Linked DNA regions of Homo sapiens. The protein of the gene in region 1 interacts with the protein of each later gene in a pairwise test. Each region holds a gene or a part of one and is shown in the gene's direction. Other genes may lie near its edges.

Region 1 (3,912 bases):
TCTGGGAGGGGCAAGTGTTCCATCTTCCCTGCAGGAGAGATGGGATCTGGGAGTCACAGAGTGGGTCCAGTCCTCCCTGCAGGAGAGATGGGGTCTGAGAGTTGGGGGACGAGGGTCCAGTCCTCCCTGCAGGTGAGATGGGGTCTGGGAGGGGCAAGTGTTCCATCCTCCCTGCAAGAAAGAAGGGGTCTGGGAGTCAGGGAATGGCTCCAGTCCTCCCTGCAGGAGAGATGGGGTCCGGGAGTTGGGGTGAGGGCTGGGGACTTAAGGCAAGGGTCCAGTCCCCCAGGCAGAGACTCACTTGAGGGCCATGGGAAGTCATTTAGCCCCTCCACACAAAGCCCATGGAAAGGAAATGTTAATCCTGCCTTTTTCATGCTAATCTGAGTCTACCTCCAGTTTTCCTATTTCCAATCCTTTCCCTACAGGCTTATGGATCTGGCATAGGCAAGAGGTTCTGGTTTCAGGAAAGACTGGCTGTTCTCTTGAGATCTGTAAAGAGAGGATGTGAAAAAGGAAGGTCCTGGAAGGCAGTCAGATGGAGCCCTGTTTCCCGCCTTTCCATGTCCATTCCTCCTGGGGCCCCTGATCTGTCTCTCTGGAGATACTCAAGCTCAGGCAGCCGTTGCCAACTCAGACTGGTCTGACAAACACTTCTTGAACACTGGGCGGGGTGCTAGAGAGACACTGAGGTAGCCACATCGGATCCCTGCCCTCTGGGAGTTCACAGACCCAAACCCGGAACACTGTGAGCCAAAGTGGATGTGGGGCAGGCCCTGGGTGCTGGGTGGACCCACATCTGGTGTGTGTGTGTGTGTGTGTGTGTGTGTTTAGGTTGGGTGTACGATGTGTCAGCAGAGCATGCAGAAGTCCTCGCTGGAGTTTCATAAGGTAAGAGCCCCATGTGATTTCTCCTTTACAGCCAAATAGACCAACCTGAGAAAAGGAGAGGAAGGGGAAACGGGAGGCCAGTAATAGAGATTTCCACCTGACCACTCTTTTCACCCCATTAGGCTTGGAGAGCAGTGGAGAACTAGCCCACCGCATAACACAGGTTCTCCTGTCCCCCAGATACTGATCAGAAGGGTTTTCCATGGTCCATGAGTCCATCAGAGCTCAGATCCCCCGAAGGCAGTCCCGCACTCTGGCCCTTCTCATCTGCTTTCTCGTATTGGCCCTAATTCCCTAGGGAGATGGGCACAAGTCCTTGATCTGCCTACAGTCAAAGAGGCCAGTGATCGGCCAGGCGCAGTGGCACACGCCTGTAATCCCAGCACTTTGGGAGGCCAAGGCGGGTGGATCACGAGGTCAGGAGTTCGAGACCAGCCTGACCAACATGGTGAAACCCCGTCTCTACTAAAAGTACAAAAATTAGCTGGGCGTGGTGGCACACGCCTGTGGTCCCAGCCACTTGGGAGGCTGAGGCAGGAGAATTGCTTGAACCCGGGAGGCGGAGGTTGCAGTGAGCCAAGATCAAGCCACTGCACTCCAGCCTGGGCAACACAATGAGACTCTGTCTCAAAAAAAAAAAAAAAAAAAAAGGGCCAGTGATCATGCCCTTCCTGCTGCCTCCCACAGGCCAATGAGTGCCAGGAGCGCCCTGTTGAGTGTAAGTTCTGCAAACTGGACATGCAGCTCAGCAAGCTGGAGCTCCACGAGTCCTACTGTGGCAGCCGGACAGAGCTCTGCCAAGGCTGTGGCCAGTTCATCATGCACCGCATGCTCGCCCAGCACAGAGATGTCTGTCGCAGTGAACAGGCCCAGCTCGGGAAAGGTAAGCACACAAACTGGGGTGGAAGAGAGACGTTCCAAGGGCCAGAGCCTTTCCTGGATGGGATGCAAGGAAGGGAAGCTCTCAACAGGACGGATGACAAGTGTATTTGCTGTATAGATCTCAATTCATCTGGCTATTCTAATTCTAAACCATGCCTCAGAGTGGCCTTCCTGTGTGTCTGCTGTGGCCTTCAAATGACTGGTCCAGGGAGACTAGGAGGCCGGGGCTAGAGCCTAGCTACCACAAAGTTGAGTAAAGAGGCCATGGAGAAGGCTGGGCGGGGTGGCTAATGCCTGTAATCCCAGCACTTTGGGAGGCTGAGGCGGGCAGATCACCTGAGGTTGGGAGTTCGAGACCACCTTGACCAACATGGAGAAACCCCGTCTCTACTAAAAATACAAAATTAGCCGGGCGTGGTGGCGGACGCCTGTAGTCCCAGCTACTTGGGAGACTGAGGCAGGAGAATCACTTGAACCCGGTAGGCGGAGGTTGCAGTGAGTCGAGATCGTGCCATTGCACTCCAGCCTGGGCAACAAGAGCAAAACTCTGTCTCAAAAAAAAAAGGGGGGGACCATGGGGAGTCCTAGGAAACAGGAGGCTTTCTTTGAGCACCTCTAGCACAGTCCTAGCCTGGCAGAGATCCATTGCATCCTTTTACAGATGAGAAACCTACACACAGAATAAAGCAGGGACTTGCTAGAGGCAAAAATAAGACTGGACTCCCGCACTTCCTGGCACTGAATCTAGGGCTTTTTCCATTATCAACAATGGCCAGAAGGGAGTTAGCAATGGCTCCTGGCCTGGGGGCCTATGTATTGGCTCCCTGGTACCATTTTATGTTCACTTGAATCACTCACCTCTTTATGAGGGTGTATTTACTGTCACACAACCATCAGTGTGACAGATCCTTTGGTGTCTTTGCTAGTTGTTTTGGTAACATGGTAACATGGGAGAGAGCCTAAAACTCCCCAGACAGTAACCTTCTCCTGATAAACAATCCACCCAAGGGCAAAACTGGCCAATGGAAACCTGGAAATTGTGAGAGTCATGTATATTTCCTTCATCCCAGCATGGCTGGACGTCAACAGAATCAAACACAGTCTTCAACACAACTTCAGTGCAACACAACACAACACAACACAACACAGCTTCAACACTGTCAACAAAAATGTGTTCAACCAACACCTGGTCTGATCACAGAGTCTGAAAACTGGTGCAATGAAAGAGCACAGTCAGAATGGAGGGGGTTGGCATCCGTGGCTACAGCTCCATTCATCTCCTTAGAAACCAGTCCTGATCCAGGAAAATGTCTCTCCATTACGGTTGCTGCTGCCCTGAGTGCACATCTGTGGCCATAAAGGAAATGATGTGGGTGATTCGGCCAAGAGTTGCCTGTGTGGTCAAGGATGCCGGCAGCGCAGGAAAGTCAAGACCAGGCAGGTCCGGGGGGCAGTTCGTGCTCATGAGCACAGGCCATGTATGCAGTTGTGGGAGAGCTGGGCTAGCCGTTGACAAGGACAATCATTTGTGGTGTTGTTTCTCTGCTTATTCAGGGGAAAGAATTTCAGCTCCTGAAAGGGAAATCTACTGTCATTATTGCAACCAAATGATTCCAGAAAATAAGTATTTCCACCATATGGTGAGTAGCACTTAGTAATTTTCTAATGGTGCCAATAGTTCATCCACATTCTGAAAAGTGTGATAGGAAAGGCAGATTCTGGGCCCAATTTTACATAGCATGGATATTAAAGGGTCCCATATTTATTTTTTGCTTTGTTCCAAAAGATAGTTTAGTGACTTGCTTAGGCTAATCAAGCACACAAAAATTGGTCTTCATTTGTGCCCAGCCCTTCAAAGGGGCTTCCCTTGCCACTCCCAACACCCCCGATCACCTCTGACCATCTCCAAACTTCATGGCCTGGACATTGCAATTTGGTCCTCAGTAGGGCCTGTCTTACTGTTTTCGGTCCCATGTGGGAGTCTTCTCTATTAGACTGTGAGCTTCCTGCAAAACTGCATGACTTTTTCCATTTTCCTGACATCAGAGCTTGGTGCAAAAAGAGGACTCTGTAGAGGCGCAGTTACGTGATTGACTGACTGACTGATTTTGCCTGGGAACACTCACAGGTTCTTCCCTC
Region 2 (3,912 bases), on another chromosome or scaffold:
TCATGCAAAGACAGCAATATTGTATTGGAGACAGTTAGTCCAAAGGTCCAAGTGCAGCTGGAGCTAGTTCTCTAAGCAAAGAACCTCTGCTTCCATGCATAGATCTTCTTCACTACCCAACCAGTTCCTATTAGTGGAAGAGTGCTGGGAGAAAGAGAGTAAGGAACTCATTAGAGTATAAAGCTAATTCAAAGAGGCAGAAATAGGAAAAAAAGGAAGCAAATTACTTCTGGGTAATGTTTAGAAATTCCCTAACAGATGGTATTTTTCTCTTGAATAGATCAAAACGTTTCAGATAAATCATATTTCTATGAAACAAGGATAAGATTCGTCTGTTACGTATGAAAAAAACTAATGCAGGATTGAGTTTACGTTAAGTATTGAGACCCAGAACTCTGCCTCTTGGGCAAAGCCAAGCATAAAGCAGCAAGCCCTCCCAGAATTAGACGGCTTTCCACGGACAGGAGAACAGATACAGCAGACACAGAATGACTACAGAAGGCGAAAACAAGCAAAAACAAATGTCACTCCATCTGGTTTTAAGCCAAATAAGCCCTCCAACCCTAACCAAGGCAAAGGAGAACTGCCTTTCCACAGAACACACCTGACTGGTTTCAGTACTTGTTTTCCCACGAGTACCCTTGAAACTCATTTTAATCCAAAAATGAAAACTATGGGACAAGCACGGTGGCTCATGCCTGTAATCCCAGCACTTGTGGGAGGCTGAGGCGGGCGGATCATCTGAGGTCAGGAGTTTGAGACCAGCCTGACCGATATGGCGAAACCACATCTTTACTAAATACAAAAAATTAGCTGGGCGAGGTAGCAGGCGCCTGTAATCCCAGCTACTAGGGAGGCTGAGGCAGGAGAATCGCATGAACCCAGGAGGCGGAGGTTGCAGTGAGTCGAGATTGCGCCATTGCACTCCAGCTAGGGCAACAAGAGCAAAACTTCGTCTCAAAAACAAACAAACAAAAACTAGTATTTTGTGATACAGCCAGAACTATCACAAGGAAAAGACTCCCAGTACTGTATCATAATACTTCCACATAAAATACCTCCTTTAGGGATGGGGTCATTTCTCCCGGGATAATTCAATTCAATGCTTAATTTTTGAGAAGGGCTGCATGAAGGAGAGACTTGTAGTTAAAAAAAAAAAACGGGTCTAATTTCTGGTTCTGGTACTTACTAGCTGGGTTACCTTATGCGAGAATTCTTAATTTCCTAGTCTTAGTTTCCTCACCTTCAAATTGAGACTAATAACTACTTTGTAGGTCTCTGGTAAGAGGGAGAGAGAAACTAAGCGGTTGGAACACCATGGGCACTCAATAATAGCTATCATTTACATAATGAGTCCCTACTAAATATGGATGCTGGGTTAGGCGCTGCCGAGATACAAGGTGAAAGTTCTAGCTGCAAATGGCAAAAGTCCTGAATGTTCTTGGATTTCAAAATGCTTTTTGTATATCGCCTCTTTTCTGCCCGTGAGGAGGACAAGGGCAAACAATTAAAATAGGAAAAATGTGGGGAGCACTTCATGGTTTATAAAACGTTTTTCTGCGTGCCAACTTATTTTAATGTCTTAACTTTCCAGATTTGAAAACAAGTCCTACACCAAATAAATGGTAGAGGGACACAAACTGGAACCCAGGCTTCCTAACCGCCAGAGCGACCTTCCCGCCGCCCAATGCCTCCCTGAGGTGCTGGTCGGCTGCTTCTGCCCGGGGTACCCAGCAGTCATCCTACTCTCCACTCAGCACCACCGCACGTCGGCCGCGCGCCACGCTACCCGCCGGGTTACTGGGCGCTGGTTTGGCCTTCGGAGGTCGAGGCTCTCTGAGTGACCTCCTGAACTGGGCTCACTCTTACTTAGCCTCCTCTCTCGAGGCAGCACCCTCCTCTCTACACGACAACTCCATCATTCGCAGCCCCACGGTGTTCCCGGGGAGCGCCTCCCGCCCCCACCGGCTTCGCCTCAGCTTGTCCTCGCCTTTCCCGCCCTCAGCATCCGCGGATACCCGCGCTCGCCGGGCCCACGCGGAAGCATCCGCAGACTGTCGCAAGGTCCCACCGTCTTGCTCTCATTGGGCAACCTTACCCTTTCCCCGCCTCAATGTTTTTGCTTCCTCAGTGATTGGACCTGGGCATTGTCCATTCCAGCTCCCAGGCACCGCCCTCTCTCCACCCACTAGAAAGCCACCCGGGTTCTCCTTCATCCCCAACGCTCCTCACCTAGCCCCTGTCCTGAGGGTGCCCCTAACCCTGGAGCCAGCTTTAAAGGGGCAGGCCCCTTCTCCTGCCCCAGCCCCAGCCCCACCCACCGGGCCCACATTCTCCGTCTTCCAGGTCCAGCGCTCCCTCACAGAACTCCCCCGCACCTTGTCTCGCTCGCTCCGCCCCTCCTTCCCAGCCACAGCTAGAGGTCCCGGGCGCACCTGCAGAGCCGGAGGCTTGCTGGGGCATGCGCTCCATGAAGGCTCTGCAGAAGGCCCTGAGCCGGGCTGGCAGTCACTGCGGGCGAGGAGGCTGGGGTCACCCGAGCCGGAGCCCCCTCCTTGGCGGGGGCGTCCGGCACCACCTCAGTGAGGCCGCGGCGCAGGGCAGAGAGACGCCACACAGCCACCAGCCGCAGCACCAGGATCAGTAAGGCTCCTGGGACAGGGCAGGGGACGGGCTTGCCCCCACTCCCACTGTGGTTCTCGCTAGTTCCCGAGTGCCCTTCCAAGGCAGCGCCGCTCATCTCCCCTCTCCTCGCTCACTAGCCCTCGGTGCCTTTTCCTTTGGATGTGGGGCTTTGGGTGCGCCGCGCTCGGGCGGTAATCTGCCGTCTGCCTAGGAGTGCGTTCGGGCAAGCGGGTCCTGGGGATGGCGCCTGTCCAAGGTGCGCACTTAACCCGGATCACAGATGCGCGCCGAGTGTTGCTTGGCTCACGTGTCTGAGTGCAGGGCCGGGCTCACGCCGCCAGTCCTCACCTTCCCTAGTCCTCGTGTGTATTTTAGGAGATGCGTGGATGTGGAACAGCCTCCTGCCTCCGGTCCAGGTGTACTGGGGTCTGTGTGTTGTGTTTCTGCGTGTTCTCGGCAGGTAATGTGTGATGCGCGTGTATTATTGGTGCGCAGGTACGTCCATAAGTGTTGGGTGTGTGCGTAGCAGTGCTCCCTGAACAGCAGAATGGGGGGGAATTTCCAAACTGGTTGTTGAATGGGGAGAATATTTGTAATGGAGGAAAGGTCTTTAAGACGCAGATTTCCCAAACCAGAGCCAGTCAGAGCCTTTATTTGTGCTGCCCAGGCTCCAGAATCTAAAACGTTCTCTTCCTTTGGGTGTTTCTTCCACCCAGGATGCCAAACCTTTATCTTCCCCACCGCCTAGGACACACTTGGTGGCTGAGCCTTTTTCTCTGAGACCCAGACGGTGCTGAGCAGGAAATCTTGTCCTCCCCAGAGGGCCAGCATAGACACTGTCCAAAGAGCCCCTGCTCTACTGTAGCAGGAACAGGAAATGGGCCATCTCCCTCGTCGCTGCCATCTCCCTGATGACACTCAGAAACATGGACACCATCAGTAAAGTAGCCAGACTGACACAACACTACCTCACCACTACTCGAGTCTCTGACACAACACTACCTCACCACTACTCGAGTCTCTGTCGTAAGGGACACCAATAGGTATTATTTATTATTAATGACATTATGCAGTACTTTTATTTCTTTCTTTTTTGAGACGGAGTCTCACTCTGTCACACAGGCTGGAGTGCAGTGGCACCATCTCGACTCACTGCAATCTCCACCTCCTGGGTTCAAGTAATTCTCCTGCCTCAGCCTCTCGAATAGCTGGGATTACCTCGAGTAGCTGGGATTACAGGTGCGCGCCACCACAACCCGCTACTTTTTGTAGTTTTAGTAGAGACAG

The links.
Region 2: the proteins of XAF1 (region 1) and GLS2 interact in binary tests that used the Homo sapiens proteins (3 or more experiments, as listed by UniProt).

The regions. Positions count from the first base shown.
Region 1 is NC_000017.11:6,758,828-6,762,739, forward strand, and holds part of XAF1 (XIAP-associated factor 1), read left to right. Parts: coding exon of another isoform or gene 1-132; intron 133-428; coding exon of another isoform or gene 429-647; exon of another isoform or gene 648-834; coding exon 835-891; intron 892-1,578; coding exon 1,579-1,774; intron 1,775-3,058; exon of another isoform or gene 3,059-3,080; coding exon of another isoform or gene 3,081-3,214; intron 3,215-3,327; coding exon 3,328-3,413; intron 3,414-3,912. UniProt on the Homo sapiens protein: Seems to function as a negative regulator of members of the IAP (inhibitor of apoptosis protein) family. Inhibits anti-caspase activity of BIRC4. Induces cleavage and inactivation of BIRC4 independent of caspase activation.
Region 2 is NC_000012.12:56,486,668-56,490,579, reverse strand, and holds the start of GLS2 (glutaminase liver isoform, mitochondrial isoform 1 precursor), read left to right. Parts: upstream 1-2,418; 5' UTR 2,419-2,461; coding exon 2,462-2,643; intron 2,644-2,980; exon of another isoform or gene 2,981-3,011; coding exon of another isoform or gene 3,012-3,085; intron 3,086-3,247; exon of another isoform or gene 3,248-3,593; intron 3,594-3,627; exon of another isoform or gene 3,628-3,740; intron 3,741-3,912.